Linked DNA regions of Homo sapiens: region 1 is linked to region 2. Evidence: fine-mapped expression QTL. A gene starts in region 2. The other region holds a variant in brackets. All regions are shown on one strand. Distances are between the middles of the regions. Region 1 has its middle 36 kb from the start of PRSS50. Region 2 holds the start of ALS2CL (ALS2 C-terminal like).

Region 1 (5,368 bases), 60 kb before region 2:
TGGCAGTGGGGGCGCTGTGGGAACAGGCAGACGCGGAGGAGGCGCCGCCAGGCCAGCTCCTGTTCGCCGCGGGTCCCCGTCTTCACCAGGTGAGCCATACCGACCCGAGGAGGATTCCAGAATGACCCCGGCAAGCCCAGAAGCCCGGACGTCTCCTGTGCACCCGAAATTCCCCAAAATTCCAGAAACTTCTGTAGCTCCAGGGTCTCCAGCGACCGCAGGGCCTCCAGGATCCTGGGTTACTTCAGCATCTACAGTGGGAGAAGCCTTGGAATCCGACGGAATCTCTGACCTTGGAAGGCAGTTTTCTCAGGGTATTGTTTCTGGTGCTAGATCTGTCCTGGCCTGCGGGGTAGGTCAAAGGGGACACAGCCTGGCTCAGGGAGGTTGAGGGTCAGACCCTGACCTAGATGATTTGAGAGAGAGGATAGATAACCCGCCTCCGCCCTGGGCAGCCTGGTGGGGTGGTGGGAAGGTAGTGGCTTCACTTCCAGTCCCCTCTCTTTACTGAGCCCACCAGCCTGTGGCCACCGTGTTTCAAGGATGATTGGAGGATTGCCAGCCCCAAACAAGAAGTGGCCCTGGCAGGTGAGCCTGCAGACCAGCAACATACACCACTGCGGAGGCTCCCTCATCGACAGGCGCTGGGTGCTCACTGCCGCCCACTGTGTCTTTAGGTGAGTGTTTGGGGCTCAGAGCTTGGGCCCTGATCAGGCTGTGGGACCTGGAGCCAGTCTGTCCCCTTCCCTGAGCTTCCTCTTCCTCATCTGTAAAAGGGGGTGACAGCCCCATAGTTTTTATCCAGTCTGGGTGAGACCTGAGTATTTGCATTTCTAACAAGTTTCCGGGTGTTGCCGCCGCCGCCGATCTGGGGACCACTGGCTAAAGTGGTCAGGGGTCCTGAGGGGATGTGGTTGGGAGGGAGGGAGGTGGCTGCTGGCTGGCATAGGAAGATGGGACCAGGCTTGGAAGCACCTGGAAGGTGTGGAAGGGGAGCATAGACGTCCCCCCAGGATCTCTGTGAAGGCCATCTTTTCTCTCAACAGTAATTTGGAATACAAGGTGAAGCTGGGAGACCCTGACTTGCATGCTGGTTCCAAAGAGGCACTGGTGATCCCAGTTTGAGACATCATTTTTCCTAGCAATTTTGATTTTGCCACTTTGACAAGCGACATTGCCCTTGCTCTGCTCGCCTACTCTGTGAATTATTCCTCACATATCCAGCCTGCGTGCCTCCCCGAAAAGCTTTTTGAAGTGGAAGCTGGGACAGAGTGCTGGGTGACTGGATGGGGCCAAGTGTCAGAGAGTGGTGAGACAGGCAGGATGCTGAGGTGGGACAGTCTGGTGGGCTGGGCTTGGCCTGCAAGCTATTGGGAGAGGCAGGGAGGCCATTTTCTAGCAGGTGGGTGAGGGAGGAGGGTGGAGAAGATGCTGCCAGGAAGTAATTTAACAACTATGTTATGAATTTCTGTCGTCATATTGGGACCTTGGGGCTTGGGGGCCAAGTGTAGTGGGTTCTCTTCAGGGTAAATTTCAGCTCAGGGTGATGAGCTGTCTGCCAATAGGAGCCAACCCCCACTAGAAGGACCTGCCTTGATGGGTTGAACTTCTTCACCCTAGCAGTGTAGGCCAAGCCAGAGCAACCCTGCCAGTGAGGCTGTGGGGACTCCTATCCTTAGGGAGAGGCACTACCTGTCTAAGAGTCTGTGATCCTGCTCTAGAAAGTAAAGATGCTTTACTGATGCACAGGACAGCCTGTCATTTCTGCTGATACTCAGAGTGACAGATACTTGGTTGCCATTTTTCAGGCTGACAAGGCCTTGCCTCTCCCTCTCCTGATCTGTTTTTCCTTTTACTGTCTTGATTTTGCTTCTTGTCCTTTCCTTTCTCCATGTCAACATTAAGCTCGAGTTTCCTTCTATGTCAAGTGGTGACATTGTCCACTGCCCTGACTTCCTTTAATTTGGGCAGTTGTGTTAAACACACCAATCAGGACTCAGAGTGGGCACTGGGGGCTCCTGTTCTATCCCTTTGTGAAGATCCACTCTCTTGTAAATTGTGTCTTTGCAGTTTCAGGACCAATGCCACTTGTTCTTCAGGAGACTGAGCTAAACATTATGCGTCATGAGAAATGTTGTGAGATGCTCAAGAACAAGAATATATCCAAGAGTAAAATGGTCACGAGGGGGACCGTCTGTGGCTATAATGACCAAGGGAAGGATGCCTGTCAGGTCAGTTCATGGGCGTCTTGCTGCCTCAGCATTGCAATTGTCTCCTCAAAGCTTCCTCATTCCCAGCCAGTAGGGCCTGGGTTATCTCCTAGCCCCTCTGTTTACCCTTATTCATGGTAATGGGATGTGAGGACAAGCCACCAAGGCTCTCCTGGGCAGCCTACCTGATCCTTCAGGAGAGAGCAACTGACACAGCCTGGAGTGGGAGGAGGGGTGAATCAGGCAGGTCCCACCAACAATACATGCTCCATGTTTTGAGACCCTTCTGTGTGACAGGCAGTGTACTCAGGTTAGCACTTGACTCATTATTGTCTCAGAGTAGGCACGATTTCATTAGGTATATTCCGTTTTTTGGAACACGCCTTTTTAGTAGGTACATGATTTTGGTTTATTGGAAATTGTCAATTCTCAGATCTCATATTGACAGATACCTAAGGCTAGGAGGGTCTTAGGGGTTCCTGGGGAAGCCCCCTGAGTGCCTAGCTCTGTAGCGCATTGCAGTGCAATTAGCCTGCTCTGATGTGGATCCTATTTCTTTCCTACAGTGACTGTCTTTCTTTTTCCAGGGAGATTCTGGGGGGCCCCTGGTCTGTGAATTAAATGGCACATGGGTCCAGGTGGGGATTGTGAGCTGGGGCATTGGCTGCGGTCGCAAAGGATACCCTGGAGTTTACACAGAAGTTAGTTTCTACAAGAAATGGATTATTGATCACCTGAGACAAGCTTCCTGTTTGAATTCAAAGACTTCCTCATCCTAGTCCTGTGTCTGGTGATGCCCCTGGGCATCCTGGTGACCTCGTGATCAGACCCCATTCCACTCTTCTGCTGTTTCTGAGTCTCACACTTAGGTGTCTCCTCTGACCAACTTCCCACTCCTTCTCAATGCCCTTTC[C/T]GCAAATCCCAGTTGGAATCCACGGGCCCTCTGGAGATCCGTACAATAGAGCATGGCAGGGAGACTGGGGCCTGGAAAGTGCCCCTGCCTGGTGCTCTGGTCTAGAGGGCCAGCTGCTCTGCCAGGTGGGCCACGGTGACTCGTCAATATCTGGAGGAACATCTATCAAAGAAGAGACATCATCAACGGTGAAGCAAGCGTTAGATGTGGTTCTGGTTTCAGGGCTCTCACCTGAGACTTTGTGAAACCAGCCAGCTGGGTGATTGCTCACAGAGAGTGAAGGAGGCGTTACCAGGTCCCTGCAGACGTGTGAGGCCTGGGACTTCCACTCTGGCTCAGTTGTCTGGGGCTGGGAGAAGTTCCCCTGCAGCCCAGTGTGGATCCATCTGTGAGTGGACAGCCTCTGCCACACTAGTTCTTTTGGAGCAACCCATTCTTGGCACCCCCTTCCTCAGTGCCCTAGTGGCCACTTTCAGGGACACCACAAGTTGTGTTGAGGCAGTTATGAAGTGTGGAGTTTTCATAAATCAACTGAATAAATGTTTGGAGAGTCTCCTGTTTCTGAAGCTCTGCTCACTGGCGAGTTTGGTTGAATATAACATACTCTATAGAGAACTGGCTTCCCATTTAACTAAGGAAGCTATTTGTGGTTCTTATTAAAATGTAGAAGGACAGGTGAGGCCCTGCTTCCTCAGACATGAGCTCTAGGGATGATTTGAGCCAATGGGTCTTGTTCCCTGTATGCCTGTTATAGCCATCAGCATCTCTGCAGGGAGCTCTGTAGTTGAGCTTAACAGTCTCTACAGTTAGGGATAGGGGATCAAGAGACACTGGAAGTAGGCCCAGGAGTGAAGTTCGGGTGTGAGAAACATTCCTCCTCATCTACTGCTTCTCCTTGCTGCTCCCTCCCACTTGGTTACCAAAGATAGGCGTTCCCACCGGGAGAAGGGCAAGAGAGATTCACTGTAGTATACATAGGTTCTCTCCCCTCATTACAAAGTCTGGTGTCCTGGAGTCTCTCTGTCTAGCTACTGATCAACCCCCTCCCAGCCTCTTGCCCTTTGCCCTTCTAGGGTTGAATGTTTAACCCCCAGGTATGGGTGGGCTTCAGTGGACAGTCTGTATCAGTCCCTTCTGTTGCCTGAGGAAGGCTGAGGCCAAGAGACTGAGAGCTTACATCAAACCCAGTCTCTTAATGAATATAGCACTACCTGCTTTAAGAAACCACTGATTTATTCATAGATTAATAAAACAAATTTAACTTTTTTTCCCTAGAACATCCCATTACAGCGTTCTTGGTCAGCAGGTAGCTTTCTCCATCTCGTGGCTTGCTCTCAGTCCTGTAGTTAATGCTTTACCTGCATCAGAATCCCCTAAGGCTTGTGAAATACAGATTACTGGCCTGCACAGTGGCTTATCCCTATAATCCCAGCTACTTGGGAGACTGAGGCAGGAGGATCCCTTGAGGCCAGGAGCATGTAGCATGTCTCTTAAAAAAAATTAGCTGGGCATGGTGGCCTGTGCCTGTAGTCCCAGCTACTCTGGAGGCTGAGCAGGAAGAAGTCTTGAGCCCAGGAGTTTGAGGCTGCAGAGATATATGATCATGCCACTGCCCTCCAGCCTGGGGGACTGGAGGAAACCTCATCTCTTAAAACAAAATTACAGATTGCTGGTTCCTGGTTCCACCCCTGGAGTTTTCAATCCTGTAGGTCTGGGACGGGGCCTACATTCTCTGTCTTTCAGGTAGAAAGACCTTAAAAGAATGTACGTTTCTAACAAGAATGTACATTTACCTGAAAGACCTAAAGAATGTACATTTCTAAGTTCCTGGCTCATGCTAATACTGCTGGTCTGGAGACCTCACTTTGAGAAGCAATGCTCTGCATTAACAAGAATAGAAAAGGCAACCTCCTGTTGACTGCCTTGGCATGGAAGTGGCACACATCACCTCTATTCATGTGGACCCACTTAGGTGCCAGGCTGGGGAGGGAATGTGGCTCCAAGTCCAGCTGATCACTTCCCAATCTCTGCCATGCCTAGCAGATCCAAAGACAGCATCCTTCTGCAAAAAATCCCTGTGGAAGCCCAAGGCCTGGCACAAGCCACCATTCCTTTTAGCTGCCACGATCTTACTGGTTGTCTGTGGAAGAGGACACATGTCTTTCCTTTGTCTGGTCTCCCCCAAGAGTCCTTGTTTTACAGTAGTCTTAGATCCAGCTCAAATATCACTTTTTCAAAGACATCT
Region 2 (5,368 bases):
CTGTGGATGGGCACATGATCTGCACACGCATACCCAGGGCTGCCACTAGAGTTGTGCAACTTGGAGTCCTTACCAGTGGGTTCAATGGTAGATGGGTCCATGTGGCACAGGGACCCACCCATTCCCTGACTGTGGAATTGTATCTGTGTGCAGCGGGTGTGGGAGTGGTGTGGGTGGGTATACACATCTGTGGTGGGATTGGCTAGGGGCCCTTGGCTGTGCTGCAGGGGACTGAAGGCAGGTGGACTCAGCAGAGGCTGTCCTTTGGGCACTACCAGAGGCCTTACCTGGCCCCAAGCCAAGAATGAGCTGTAAGAGAGGCTGGGCAGGTCTTGCCCCATTTAGCAGATAGGAAAACTGGGCTTGCAATGCCCATGAGGTCACCCAGGGAATGGGGGAAGGACTGGTCTGCTGCCCAGAGCTCAGTCAGCCTTTCTATTCCCCTAGATGTGGCTGAACAGGAAGTCTGTGCTCTAGGGAGGAAGCCGTGGGAGCCCTTCCCTTCCTGCTCGAGCCCAGGCAGCACTGCCTTCCCTCAGCTGCACGTGCAGATGATGAAAGTGAGGCCCAGAGACACCTAGCATAAGATCAGATCTGTCCTGCTCGGGGCCTTGCCCCACCTGTCCCTGTTCGTCACAAGTGGTGAGGCCATATGCTCCTCCTGAGGCCATGGCCACTCTCCAGCCCTTGCCTCCCTCCTAAGCCCCAGGGATGCCTGGTGGCCCACACCCATGCTCTAGGGGACCCATAGATCCTCTAAACCGTGCTCATCCCTGAAGGAGCCCCTTGAACCCACCATACCCCTCCTCTCAGAGTCCCACATAACCCCGAGAAGGAGGCGCAGGTAAGATATTTCACCAGCAGGGGCACTACGTTACAGAGAGGCCACACACTGCCTGTGATCACACAGCAAGAGGAAAGCAGCACAAGGCCCCATACCAGCTCTTCCAGAATGTACCGCTACCTCCCACTGCCCCACAGGCACAAAGGATCCCCACAGGGAAGACCTTGGAGGCCTGTTTAGAACCTGAAGCCTCAGTTCATTCCACCTGCTGGGGCGGTGGCTCTGCCAGGCTGTGCTGTAGACTCAGGGAGCCAAGTGCCCCAGCAGACAGTCCCGCAGGCCAACAGGGCTGTGAAGGGGAGTGGGGGCCAAGGTCCGGAGCCTGGGGGTGGAGGGCATGGGGAGGGGAGGCTTTCCCAGAGGGCCAGAGGGACACCTCACCAGAAGCCTCCTTGAGGTAGCCCCCACCCACCAACACAGCAACACCTCTAGCAGGCAGGGACCAGAGGAGCAAGGCCTTTGGGAGTGGAGCCCCTCAGGCAGCAGGGGGTGCAGAAGGGGGCAAGAAAACAAGGCTGGAAAAGGGGAGGCCAGAGCTAGGGCGGGCTTTGGCAATGTGGGGAGGGATGGAGAAGCAGGAAGGGGCGGCTCTGCAGGATTGGGACCCAGGAGGAGAGCAATGTGGGGCAAAAGGGTGAGGTCACTGGGACCTGCAGTCACTCAGACAAGGGTCCCAGGCTGGAAACCCTCCAAGGGGTGATGTGCAGCTTGGCAGACAGTAAACTCCCACCTCGCAACAACCCAAGGGAGCCAGGGGATGAGCTTGGCAGGCCCCAGGCCCCTACTTACCTCCACTGGGGGTCTCTTCAGCCTGGCAGGTTGGGGGATGCCTCCCACCTCCTCAGTAGGGGGCTGAGTAGGGGGCTGGTGGGCCACCCTTTCTGCTCTTCCACGGCCGCCTTGGACCCTGAGCCTCCCCCTCACTGGAACCTGAGTGCCACTGAGAGCAATGGGTGACTAACCTGGTGGCCAGAGGGGGAATCAGGCTGCTGACGGGGGGCTTCTTTGTTACAGGTTTGAACTAAGTTCCCTCCCGCTCCCGGGGGGTCTGTCCCAGATAAGTCTTCAGCCACCCTTTCCAAGGTCTCAGGCCTTCGCACAAAGCACACGCGGCCGGCTTCATGCTCTACTAGGCCTGTTGAGACTCAGGAGTGGGGAGGAAAGGGGACTTCCCCAAGGTCGCACAGGAGGGGCGGCCGGCCGTGGACACCCAGCCCAGGGGGCCGCAGGGCGCCTCAGTATACCCCTCTACAGGCTCCAAGTTCCACGAACCCACACAGCGCTCCGCGTGTGCTGGCTTCTGTGACTCAGGGCAGACCCGGGAGGTCACGGGGCTGCACCACAGGCTCGCAGAGCGACTGACTGGCGGGGCGAGGTGGTGGCACGGCGGCCTCGGAGCCTTGCAGGGGAAGCGGGGCGCGAGAGGCGAGCCTGAGTGTGCGCGTGGGTGCGTAGGGGGCGGAGGGGTCAAGACTCCCACTTTTCCTCCCCGCGCCGGGTCCCAGGGGCCTCCGGATCCCGGGGGACGCCAGAGGGAGGCCTCAGGAGAGGCTTGGGGCGGCGGGACGGATCAATACCGCGCGCCAGCTCCTCGGTGGCCCGCCCGTGGCCCCCGCAACTCCAGAGCAACACCCGGAGGCGGGGCGGGGCGGGGCTGGGCGAAGGGGGCGGGGCTGGCAGGGGGCGGGACTGGCAGGGGGCAGGGTGGGGGTGCGAGCGAGGAGCCGCACAGGCAGTCCCGGCGCGGGGCAACCACAGCGCTCAGGTAAGGGCGCGACGAAGGGCGCGCGTCTGCGGACGGGTGTCTGCGCTCCACGCTTAGCTCGTCCAGGTGGGGGCTCCCGCCTCCTCGGCTGCTGCGGTCCCCGCCCAGCTCCTTGGTCCCGGCGGCAGTCATCCCCCGGCCGTCCGAGTCCCTCGTAAGATACCCCGCTCACAGCGTCGTCCTCCCTGCCTGGCTGCTAGCCTGCTTGGGTTCGGGGCAGCGCCCCGGGCCTGACCTGAGCCGTGGTGGCAGGGCCACGGGGCCCCAGCCAGCAGGAGAGACTGCCAGGAGGAGGTGACGCCGGCTGGTTAGGGCGGAAGGGCCCGACCCGGGATTCCAGGAGGTGGCCTTTTCGCATGGGAGCGGCATGGCAAATGCCTGGCGGCCGGAACAGGAGCTCGGGTCTGGGAAACTCCAGCGACTGAGTGTGTGCCTGGGCAGGGAGAGGAAGGGAAGCTGGGACATATGCGACAGCAGGGAGGGGTGCTTGTCTAGGACAAGAGGCTTGTAGCCATGGTGGGGCCGAGGAAGGGTGCAGCGGGGAGAGGCGAGCATGAGACTGAGGGATCAGGTGTGACAGTTCAGCGCCCCCTCCCTGGGGCAGTGCGTGTCTCTACTCTCCCCCACTGGGCACCAGACAACGAAGGGGCTGCCACGGCAGCCCATGAAAAAGCCTCCACAGCAGGCAGAACTTCCCTGCCTGTTCAGACCAGGAAATACCAGAGTGAGTGAGTGTCACGACAAGGTGTGTCAGGGGCCTAAGGAGCCAGGCCTGGGAGAGGACAGGGAAGGCCCCAGTGACCCTGCCCGGGAGGGACCTAGCGTGGACAGAGGCCAGGAATGCAGAGGAGAGACCAGGTCTGGCTACTGGTTAGAGCGCCACAGGGGCAGCCGCTGACTCACCTGGGCACGCCGTGACTGGCCAGTTCTGTCCTCACCCTGCCCCACCCCACCGCACCCCGTGGTGAGCATCAGGGCTGCCTGAGGACAGCTGTGAGGCAGGGCCCGTCAGGATCTTGCTCTGTGCCTCAGGTGAGTTGCCCACCCTCTCTGAGCCATCTAGCTAGGTGAACCTGGTGGGCTGGAGCCAGAAGTCTGGGTCTGAGCCCTGCACAAGTTCTACACAAGGGTCTCTGGACCCTCCCATTGTTCCTGGGCCTCAGTTTCCCCATCTGTACATTAGGCACAGCCTGTCACTAAGGAACCTTTGAACTGGAGGGAGGGAGAGGGTGAGGAAGCTATGCCCTTGACTGGAAGGGGGAAGGTTAGGGATGGGACAGGGGTTGGGGAGGGGGGTACTCCTGCAGGATCCTCCTCATATTAAGGTTCAGCACCTCCTCCTCCTGCCCTGCAAACGTGCACACTCATGCACATTCACGCTGCCTCACCCCTGCACTTACACTCTCCTCATCACTTCCAGGATGAAGCCCCAGACTCCCTAGCCTGGGAGCTGGGTCCCTCAGGGTCACCTAACCAGAATCCCAGCTTCCACTGCGGCCTTCCCCCAACCCACTGCCTCACCAGCCATGCTTAACTTCTGCCCGTTCCTCTGGGTGGTGTGACTCAGTTTCCCAGGGTTATAGATCCCTTTGGGGCCACAGATGTGGAAGACTCCCAGATTAACAGTTGCCAACTTGAGTCTGGAGGACTCACCCCCGGAGTCATAGGCTGCTTTGTGGGGTGGGGAGTCTAAGGACCAGATCCCCACACCCAGAGAAGCCCCCTTCCACCTGTTTGTCCTTTTGAGGGGAGACTTAAGTAGTTTGAAAAGCTGTGATCCTCTTTGGCTGGGCGCAGTGGCTCACGCCTGTAATCCCAGCACTTTGGGAGGCCAAGATGGGTTGATCACTTGAGGCTAGGAGTTTGAGACCAGCCTCGTCAACATAGTGAGATCCCATCTCTAAAAAAAAAAAAAAAAAAGAATAGAAAGAAATACAAACAAATAAAAAGAAAAAAATGCTGTGATCTGGTTGAACCCCCATTTCGTAGAGGGGTGGCTGAGGTACAGAGAGGAGTAAGGCTGTGGATAAGTTGAAGCATGTCCAGGGCTGAGCAGCCAGGTGAGGGCTGCTCCTGGGGGAGCAGCTGAGACTGGGCAGTGGGGACGAGGGACAGGAAGCCTGAGGAGGAGAGGCTATCTCTAGGGTCAGAGAGCTCCTTGCCAGGGTATGGTGTCGGCTGGGGTCATGGTGCTGGCCCCCCGGAGAGTGTAGGGATGTTGGTGTTCAAGTCTTCCTAGCAGCGAGTTATTTACTGCAGTATCTTTTCAACGTGCACTGATCTGGTTCCTAGTCTGCATCTCCTATCCTAGCCTCACCCTTTCTTCTACCTTCCCAACCAGGCTTGGATATCCTCACCTCTTAGCTTAGACCCCAGCTGACTGCCAGCTGAGAGTGAAAAGGTCACCCCCAAAGCGCCTTTCCATTCCAGCAGTTTCGGGAGATACGGGTGAGAGTTAGGTGGGCCTGGCTGCACCCCTATTCCCTTGGCTGGGCTTTCCTTGTCTGCCTGAGCTGACCTGGAGCCCCCTGTGTCCTGGGGGCCTGGGTCTGCCTCAGGGGCCCACAGAGGGAGAAGAAGCTGCAGCACAGAAGCTGCAGCTGGGTGTCTGGTGGCTTCCCCTTCCTGCCTCTCTCTCTGCAGCCTCACCCTCTCGAAGCAGCAGTAGCAGGAAAGGTGGGGCAGGAATGCCTGGCCTGGGCCTTTGGCCAGAGCTCTGAGGGACCCGCCCCACTCCATTCCAGAGCCAATTCCCTGGG

Evidence for each region. PIP is the estimated chance that this variant, and not a neighbour inherited with it, causes the effect.
Region 1: its variant is the best candidate, but not a certain one, in a credible set for the expression of ALS2CL in whole blood (TOPMed, PIP 0.64).

What each region holds. Positions count from the first base shown.
Region 1 is chr3:46,751,351-46,756,718 of GRCh38, reverse strand. It overlaps the pseudogene PRSS43P. Among named protein-coding and RNA genes, the nearest start is that of PRSS50, 36 kb to the right of the region's middle. The variant C/T (reference allele first, on the strand shown) is at 3,124.
Region 2 is chr3:46,690,884-46,696,251 of GRCh38, reverse strand. It overlaps ALS2CL (ALS2 C-terminal like), which reads left to right and starts at 2,573. Exons shown (of 26, transcript NM_147129.5): 1 at 2,573-2,609. It also overlaps a transcript of TMIE not described here. RefSeq lists enhancers at 847-1,636, 3,218-4,009 and silencers at 2,269-2,348, 2,499-2,748, 2,479-2,773.